2 linked regions of the Homo sapiens genome follow. The protein of the gene in region 1 interacts with the protein of each later gene in a biochemical or structural test. Each region holds a gene or a part of one and is shown on either strand. Other genes may lie near its edges.

Region 1 (3,816 bases):
ACTCTAGATTATAATTCTCCCATGAAGAATGTCATCTAATAAAAAATGAGTTTTAAAAATCAACATAAAGACAGTAAAAAGAGAGAGAAAAGCCTTTTTAAATGATCAACCAACTGTTAGGAGAAAAGTACACTGGAGTCTTGCAATATCAGAACTAATATTCAAACTCTCAATCTGTTTGGTTAAAAAAGTTTAATGAGCTGTAAAATAAATACACTTCCATTAAATATTAAATAAATTATTTACAACTTGAAAAAATACTTTTTACCTTCGTGCACCTTTATATACAGAAATAGCATAAAAAGTGACAATTGAAAGTTTAAAACCATCATAACAAAAAGGGTCCATTGTCTTATGATCCACTGGAAAGAGGACCGACTCATCATTTATGGCTATGACTTGGCAGTGACTCCAATGTGATATCCTGTGAGAAAATAAAATAAAATAAAATAATAAAATAAAACAAAATGTTACAGATAAGCTCAATTCCAGCAGAGCTTTAAGAAACTTTAAAGCATAATCAGGAATCAGAATTTCTGTCAGTTGTTTTCTAGTACATCGTTTGAGAAATGCTAAGATTTTTCAGAGACCAACTCTTACTTCGGCTTGAGTTCCTCTTTCACACTTGCTTTGATTATACACCTAGTTCAGTAGAAGTCCACATATGCTCAAATCTGTTGCATCAAATTCTGCTTAATAAAAATGCAACAGCAGTCATGAGAAATAGTTTTCCTAACCAAATCTATGCAGTGGACATAATTAAAATCAAAGATTAACTGTCTCAGCATATTTATGATATATAGTTAATTTAGGAAAATTAGTACCAAGGGCATAATAATAGTAACTACCAGTTAATAGGCACCCACTATGTGCTAGCACAGCATATTCTTTTTCCTAAAATAATTCTGGGATCTATGCTAAAAAATCTCAGTGGCAAATAACCAAAAATCCATCCTTATTCACACTGGTGGTCTTAGCTTTACCAAAATTAGCCAATACATTAAAAATTTTGATGTAATAAATACTGAGTTTAGCATTGGTATGAATAATTACCCATTTTATGAATTATTGAGCTAATTCTGCAATAGGCTAAAAACAAAATATCTGTACTTAACCAATGCTAAATATAGCGTTGTTCAAGTATCAGAACCATCTGGAGTGTACATTAAAAATAGAATTCTGATTCAGTAGATTTAGGGCTGGGCTTAGGAATATGCATATTCAACAAGCATCTCAAGTAATTCTTTTTTTTTTTTTTTTTTAAGATGGAGTTTCGCTCTTGTTGCCCAGGTTGGAGTGCAATGGCGCGATCTTGGCTTACTGCAACCTCTGCCTTGCAGTTCAAGCAATTCTACTGCCTCAGCCTCTCAAGTAGCTGGGACTATAGACATTCACCACCACACCCAGCTAATTTTTTGTATTTTTAGAAAATTTTGTATATTTAGAAAAGGTTTCACCATGTTGGCCAGGCTGGTCTTGCACTCCTGACCTCAGGTGATCCGCCCACCTCAGCCTCCCAAAGTGCTGGGATTACAGGCCTGAGCCACTGTGCCCAGCCCTCAAGTAACTCTTAAACCTACTGAAGTTAGACAATCAATAACTGAAATGACATCATCTTTCTTGAATGTTTAAGGAAATAAAGTTCCTTCTTCTGACAAACTTTAAGTGTGTTCTTGATTTCCTTGCCTCCCTCTTCCTCTGGGAGTTTTCTTCCCTAGCTGCTCACTTTCATTATCAACGAAATATTCCTCTTCACGCCTTTTTACCTTATACCTACAACATGCTCAGTTCTCTCTCTTTACAAGAAAATATAAGTTTTCACCAACCTATTTATCAAATTTACATCCCCCTCCCTTTCTACTTCCTTTTGTAAAAAAAGAGCATTCAACCTATTGTCTGTCTCCATGCCCTCACATTATCAGTGCAAGCACCCGCAACTGTGGCTCTCCACCATGTGAGCTCAACCTATCATCACAACTGTATCTCCCCTAACACTCATTTAGATTAAGCCATTTTTCACAAGTTTCTAAAATTATCTCTTCCATTTCTCAGTATAACCCTTTCTTTCCCTTCACAGTTTCTTGAACCAATCTCACTAGTCCTTCAACGTTCACTTCCAAGGCCACCCCGAACACATCTTTTCCTCTTCCCTAAATAAATTCTACTGGATTCTTTCTGTTTTTCACTGGAAACTTCTCATACTCCATTGGTTCCTTTCTCATGACATTTATTTTACATCCCTAGTATTCTGGTTTCTTACATTTTTTTCCTATCTACTAAACAATAACTTCTTTGAGAACTGGACCAGTGTCTCTTATATTTATATCCCTAATAATACTTATTAAACACGTAGTCTATTCTCAACATTGAATTCCATCTTATACTCAAAGAATAATACTTTAACATAGCCATTGTTCATAGTGTATATATAATTAAGAACACATTCCATATTTTTCTTGAGATTATATAGTGTTAAATTTTTCAAAATTATAGGATATGATCTAAAGATATATTTTAAAACTCAAACCTGTAATTTTATCTTCAGTTATGCTATAGCATGTACATTTCCATTCTCTTGTCGAAGTTTCTTTCGTTCCTCAGCTTCTCCTTCATATTTCCTGACGTATTGTCTTCTAAGCCTTCAGAGAACAAGGCATTCTAATGTTATCAAGGTTCTATTCATCTATATGTTTGATTGGGGTTTTTATGAGTAGAGGGGGTTCCACTTCATGAGTAGTGATAGACCAGCAATCACTATACTTGACACTAAACCTAAACCTGGCTATAAAATATTACCAATTTCTAAGGGGGTATTTATGTTGACTGTATATAAATCCATTTCCAGAGGGCTTATATTTAAATGTGTCTTGATATACCAATTCTGAGAAGGTATGAAACACATCCATATGTCTTGTTTTTGCAGAACTTAGTACAGCTGCCATGCACAATTGGAGAAGATGATGGTATAGTTTTGCCATAGGAGAACTCTATACTTGCACAAATTAAATGATTAAATATTTTTGAAACAGGCTTACAAAACAAGTTGAGCTTTATTTATTTCTAGGTATAAAATATATCCTTCTAGTTTAATTTACTGCTGCTTTCCACTTTAAAAACTCAATTATTTAAAAACTTCTTGTTGTTGTATAAAAACCCCCTGTTGTTAGGAGGTCTTTAACCCACCACAAAACATTATCATTAAAATCATAAAAAGTTTTCTTTTATTGTAATAGTTGAGGGAAAAACTCACCTCAATTATGAAAACAAACCCAGCAACTTTTGCTTAGGTTTAGTGTTTGTTTTATGTTTCAAACACAAGGAGAATATGGGAGACACGGGGAAAAAAGCCACTGCTTAATTTTAAGAGTGCTAACATTAACAAAATCTATCCATTCTTTCCCAAAAAATGATTAAATATTTCAAGTCAAATAATTACAAGTTTAATTATTACAAAACATCTTCCTTAACTAGCGATTGTTTTGTTCTATCCTTTAAAATAATAATGGTTTGTCTGAGAGTATGTCTCCTAAACACCTTTGCATATCTGCCTTGAGGTACTAGAAAACCAGGACAAATTCTAGTGTGTGCAAAATAAATTTAAGCTACATATCAAACTTGATATGCATGATGAAACAATTTTTATGTGTCATGTTATGATGATCTCATCTAAATTTAAAATAATTGTCAACAATGGCAGAAGATAACCCCTTGTTTCCTGAATGGTAGTCGTGGTAGATCATGTACACAAGTGGATAGCTGTTAAAGTTATTTACCAAGACCTAAAATTAGAAGAATGAGTCCCTTGCTTTTCCCAAG
Region 2 (4,273 bases), on another chromosome or scaffold:
CAAAAAAAAAAAAAGAACACCTTGCTGATTATGTGGCATTGAGCATTATCCAAGTCTCTGAGTGACTCTCTCCCCATTCTAAGGACTAGGTGAGAATAACCCCGGACAAAATGTCTCTCAATGAGAGCAGTGCACTGGGGCTGTGAAGCCACTGCATCCCTCCCCTGCTAGGAGAGCTGTGCAAGAGGCCTGCCTGGAGCCTGGTTGTGCACTGTTGTTCAGTCCCCTGATGTCCCAGCCTGGCTCCATTAGGACGATGGAGTCAGGGTCCTTTGGGTGGAACAGGAAGAAAATATAGACAAGCAGATCCTGATGTCTCCTCATCATTGCCGTCAGCTACAGGTTTTCACAGGAGACATTGGGACTTACAAAGGCGGAAACTGCTTGTCTGTCACGTGATCCTAGTCCCCAGCCTGGGCTCCTGTTATTGCCAGGCCCTCCTCTGGGCGTCTCTCCTTCTGTAATTAATCCCTGCTGGACCTGTGGCCCCTCCCTCTGCCCTCATTAACCTCCAGGATGCAGGCAGCCTGGCAGAAGGCCAGAGATCAGGCCTGGGGACGCCCATACCTGCTTCTGTCCCCTGCCCATGTGGCACACTGTGGACCTTCTTTCTGGGAGGGCCTACCAGGGCTCAAGGTGTGATAGATGGAGAGGCACCCAGGCTAAATTTTAAAGGAAACAGGGAGGATGATTCACAGGCCTGGCCCAGAACTCCAGCTCAGCCTCCCACTAGCGGATTGTCCTTAGGCAAGTTATTTGATGTATTTGAGCATTGATTTTTTTTAACTATAAAAATAATAAGACTAGGCACAGTGGCTCATGCCTGTAATTTCAGCACTTTGGGAGGCTGAGGCGATAGGATCATTTGAGGCCAGGAGTTCAAGAACAGCCTGGGTAAAATAGTGAGACCCCATCTCTACAAAAAATTTTAAAAATTATCTAAGCGTGGTGGTATTTGCTTGTAGTCCTAGCTTCTCAGGAGGCTGAGGTAAGAGGATCACTTGAGCCTGAAAGTTCAAGGCTACAGTGAGCCATGATCGCACCACTGCACTCTAACCTGGGTGACAGAGTGAGACTCTGTCTCAAAAATATTTATCCTTGGCCAGGCGCAGTGGCTCACGCCTGTAATCCCAACACTTTGGGAGTCCGAGGCAGATGGATCACGAGGTCAGGTGTTCGAGACCAGCCTGACCAACATGGTGAAACCCCCATCTCTACTAAAAATACAAAAATTAGCTGGGCGTGATGGTGCGTGCCTGTAATCCCAGCTACTGAAGAGGCTGAGGCAGGAGAATCGCTTGAACCTGAGAGGCGGAGGTTGCAGTGAGCCAAGATCATGTCACTGCATTCCAGCCTGGGTGACAGAGCGAGACTCTCTCAAAAAAAAAAAAAAAAAAAAAAAAAAATATATATATATATATATATATATATTTATTTATTTATTTATCCTCGGGGATATTGTATTATAATAACCTCATGGGCCTTCCCCTCTGTCAGTCACCTCCCTCCCACCACCTCCATCTGGTGAGAACCAGTTCTGTCTCCTCACTACCCTATGTTTACAAGTTAACCTTTCAGTTTGAGTGCCAGCACCATCAGAGAGCCCTGGCCATGCTGTGCACACAGAGAAGAATCAGGCAGAGTCCCTACACTTGAGTTGTACACAGCTGGACCTGGACACCCTGCATCCCTTCACCACCCATGACCCCTAGCACAGGTTCTGCCACTGCTGGGAGAGCCTGGCCCCACCATCGAAGGCTCCTCAATCTCCTTCTCTAAACCCTCCAGACTCAGCCCTTCCTCCTTCTCAGTGAGACCCTGACCCATTCTCCTTCACAGAGGGCTAGAGTTTTGCTGGCCCGAAATCCCCACCATCTTCCTTTGTCTCTGTCTGTAGCCCTTGGCCACCCTGCCCCTGGCTTAGGCTGGAGGATCCTGAGGGTAGGTATGTGTCCCCCAGAGGGAGTACTCAGACTTTGGGGTGGAGGATGAGGGAACAATCACCTACCTCCCCAAGACACAGCTCTTTCTTGATCAGCTCCTTGAGTTCCTTCCTACTCAGGGTCAGTTTGCTACCCTCTCTCCCCGAATATTTGTGAAACGTGGTCACCATAGTGGTCAGGGCCTTCTCCAGAGGAGTCTCCATCACAGTGTGCAGCTCTGTAGAGGGAGAGGGGAAGATCCCATTCCTCAGGAAGTCACCACCAGCAGCACTAGCCTACCTCTGAGGCCCCTCCCTCAAAGAACAAGAGACTGGAACCCAGGATGAGACTGAAATCCACTAACAAGAGCGCCCATCTATATCAGTACAGGTTACAATGAGACCCACAACAAACTCTGGAGCTGCTGGTACAAGGAGAACAGCAAGACCCCAAAGGAGACCACAGACTCTCCTGCTGGGGAGTTGTTGAAAAGTAGGCCTGAGGCAGAAAGATGAGAAGACGACCTCCTCAAAAGGCCCTGGTGGCAGATGGTGGAGCAGATCAAGGGTCACGATTTTCTCTCTGCTTCTTCCAGCTTAGGAACTGGTTTTCCACAGGCAGTTCACCAGCCTTTCCCCCAGTGCCTGAATCACCTGATATCGAGGAGTGTCCCATTATTAAAGTCGGGGACAGGGCAAAGAGAGAGTCCAGGGCTGAGAGGGGGCTGGGCTGGAACTGGGTGATGGGGTCTCAACAAGGAGCAGCAGGGAGGTGAGCTGAGCTGGCCCAGCTGGTCTCCAGACTCTGGCCCAGAGCAGTGCACACAGAGACGGGTCAGCGGGCAGGGAGGGCAGGGGGCCTCTTGAAATCTCCAGGATCATTCCAAAACCTGGATCCAGAGGCTACGCTTGAATAAGGGCCTGGATTCCAATAGCACAGCCACCCTCAGCCAAGGGAAGAGACAGATGGAGCTCAAGTGACTCAGACTCAAAAACCACTTCCCCCTCAGGGAGGAAGGAGGCAACACCCACGGAACTTGAAGGCTGCAGGTTAAATCTGTGGAGAGTCTTCACCTCCAGCCCAAAGCCCTCCCTGCCATTCTTGAACCAGACCCATCATTCCTCTCCCACCACAAAAACCTCAGCCTCTCCCACCTCAAGGAGACTCAGCTGGGACCACAGTTGAAGGCAAGGGACTCTGTGCACCTGCAGGAGCATCCTGGCTAGTCCAGACCCCCACCTCCACCCCAGAGCCATTTCTCAAGAAATTCCAAAGGCTCTGCCCTCTTCTCCCTGAGCGCATGCCCGCTTGTGGGGCCAGGCCTCCTTGGTGGAGGTCACCACCACTTGTCACCCTCATCATCCAGCGTGACCCACCAGATATCAGATGAACAGAGACATAGGAAGGAAGGACTTACCACTGTGGGAGTGAGCCCAGAGAATCCAAGCAGCAGGCATAGCCTCCCTCTCACTGCCTTCTGCCTTTATTTCCCTGATCTCTGTCCCTAGGAATCCAGGGGAGAGAAAGGGCCCATGAGAAGTTGTTGGGGACTTGAGGATGCCCACGTCAGAGCCTCCCGGGATGGAGCTGGGGAGAAACCCCTTCTGCCAATCTCACCTTCCTTGTTTACAAACAAGGGCTGGGGACACACTGAGTTCCCATAGCACACACGTCCCCAATCCCAGAAACTTTACTCTTCTGACCAAAAATCAGAACTCAAAATCTGAAATCTGATGGAACAATAAGCCGAAGAAGGGAAACCAGGCTGTCCTGGAAAGAAAACCTCAGAAGTGTGGGACAAACACAGGGCACCATCTCCCCGTGTCCTAGGAAGCTCTCCACATCGGGCCCCTCCCACCCATCCTGCCACCCACTCCAGGAGTAGAGAAGACAGCCCTTGAGATGGGGATCAGTGGAGGAAGATATTTTCTGCGAAGGATATGGTCAAGGTCATGAGCTAATATGGGCCCAGAGGTTTTTAAAGGGCTTTTAAATGAACGATTTCTTCTAGGCCTCACTGCTCTTCACAGGAAAGGCTCGTCGGAGACTCTTGGCATGGAGGACTGAGAATCAGGAATAGGGAAGGTGTCCAGCGAAGGGCTAAGGCCCAGCACTGGGGTAGAGGTTGTGGATTGGGGAGGGGGGTTCAGGTTCAGGCTGCAGTCAAGGAGGAAGTAGGGGCCAGGGAGAGTTTCCTGTATCCCAGGAGACACTCAGACATCGTTCTACCACAGTAGAACAACATACTTCTACCACCAGTCCAAGAACAGACCTGGGCTCAGGGTGTAGTACCTATCACTGCTGCAGTCCCACCCCAGCCTGGGGGGCCTCCCCACTGCTCCCCACTCCAC

Evidence for each region.
Region 2: the proteins of AREG (region 1) and S100A5 interact in far-western blotting, tested with the Homo sapiens proteins (one study listed by IntAct).

The regions. Positions count from the first base shown.
Region 1 is NC_000004.12:74,451,367-74,455,182, reverse strand, and holds the end of AREG (amphiregulin preproprotein), read right to left. Parts: intron 2,640-3,816; coding exon 2,546-2,639; 3' UTR 2,528-2,545; intron 425-2,527; 3' UTR 178-424; downstream 1-177.
Region 2 is NC_000001.11:153,538,046-153,542,318, forward strand, and holds the start of S100A5 (protein S100-A5), read right to left. Parts: upstream 2,890-4,273; 5' UTR 2,576-2,889; exon of another isoform or gene 2,161-2,575; coding exon of another isoform or gene 2,147-2,160; coding exon 2,009-2,146; intron 1-2,008. UniProt on the Homo sapiens protein: Binds calcium, zinc and copper. One subunit can simultaneously bind 2 calcium ions or 2 copper ions plus 1 zinc ion. Calcium and copper ions compete for the same binding sites.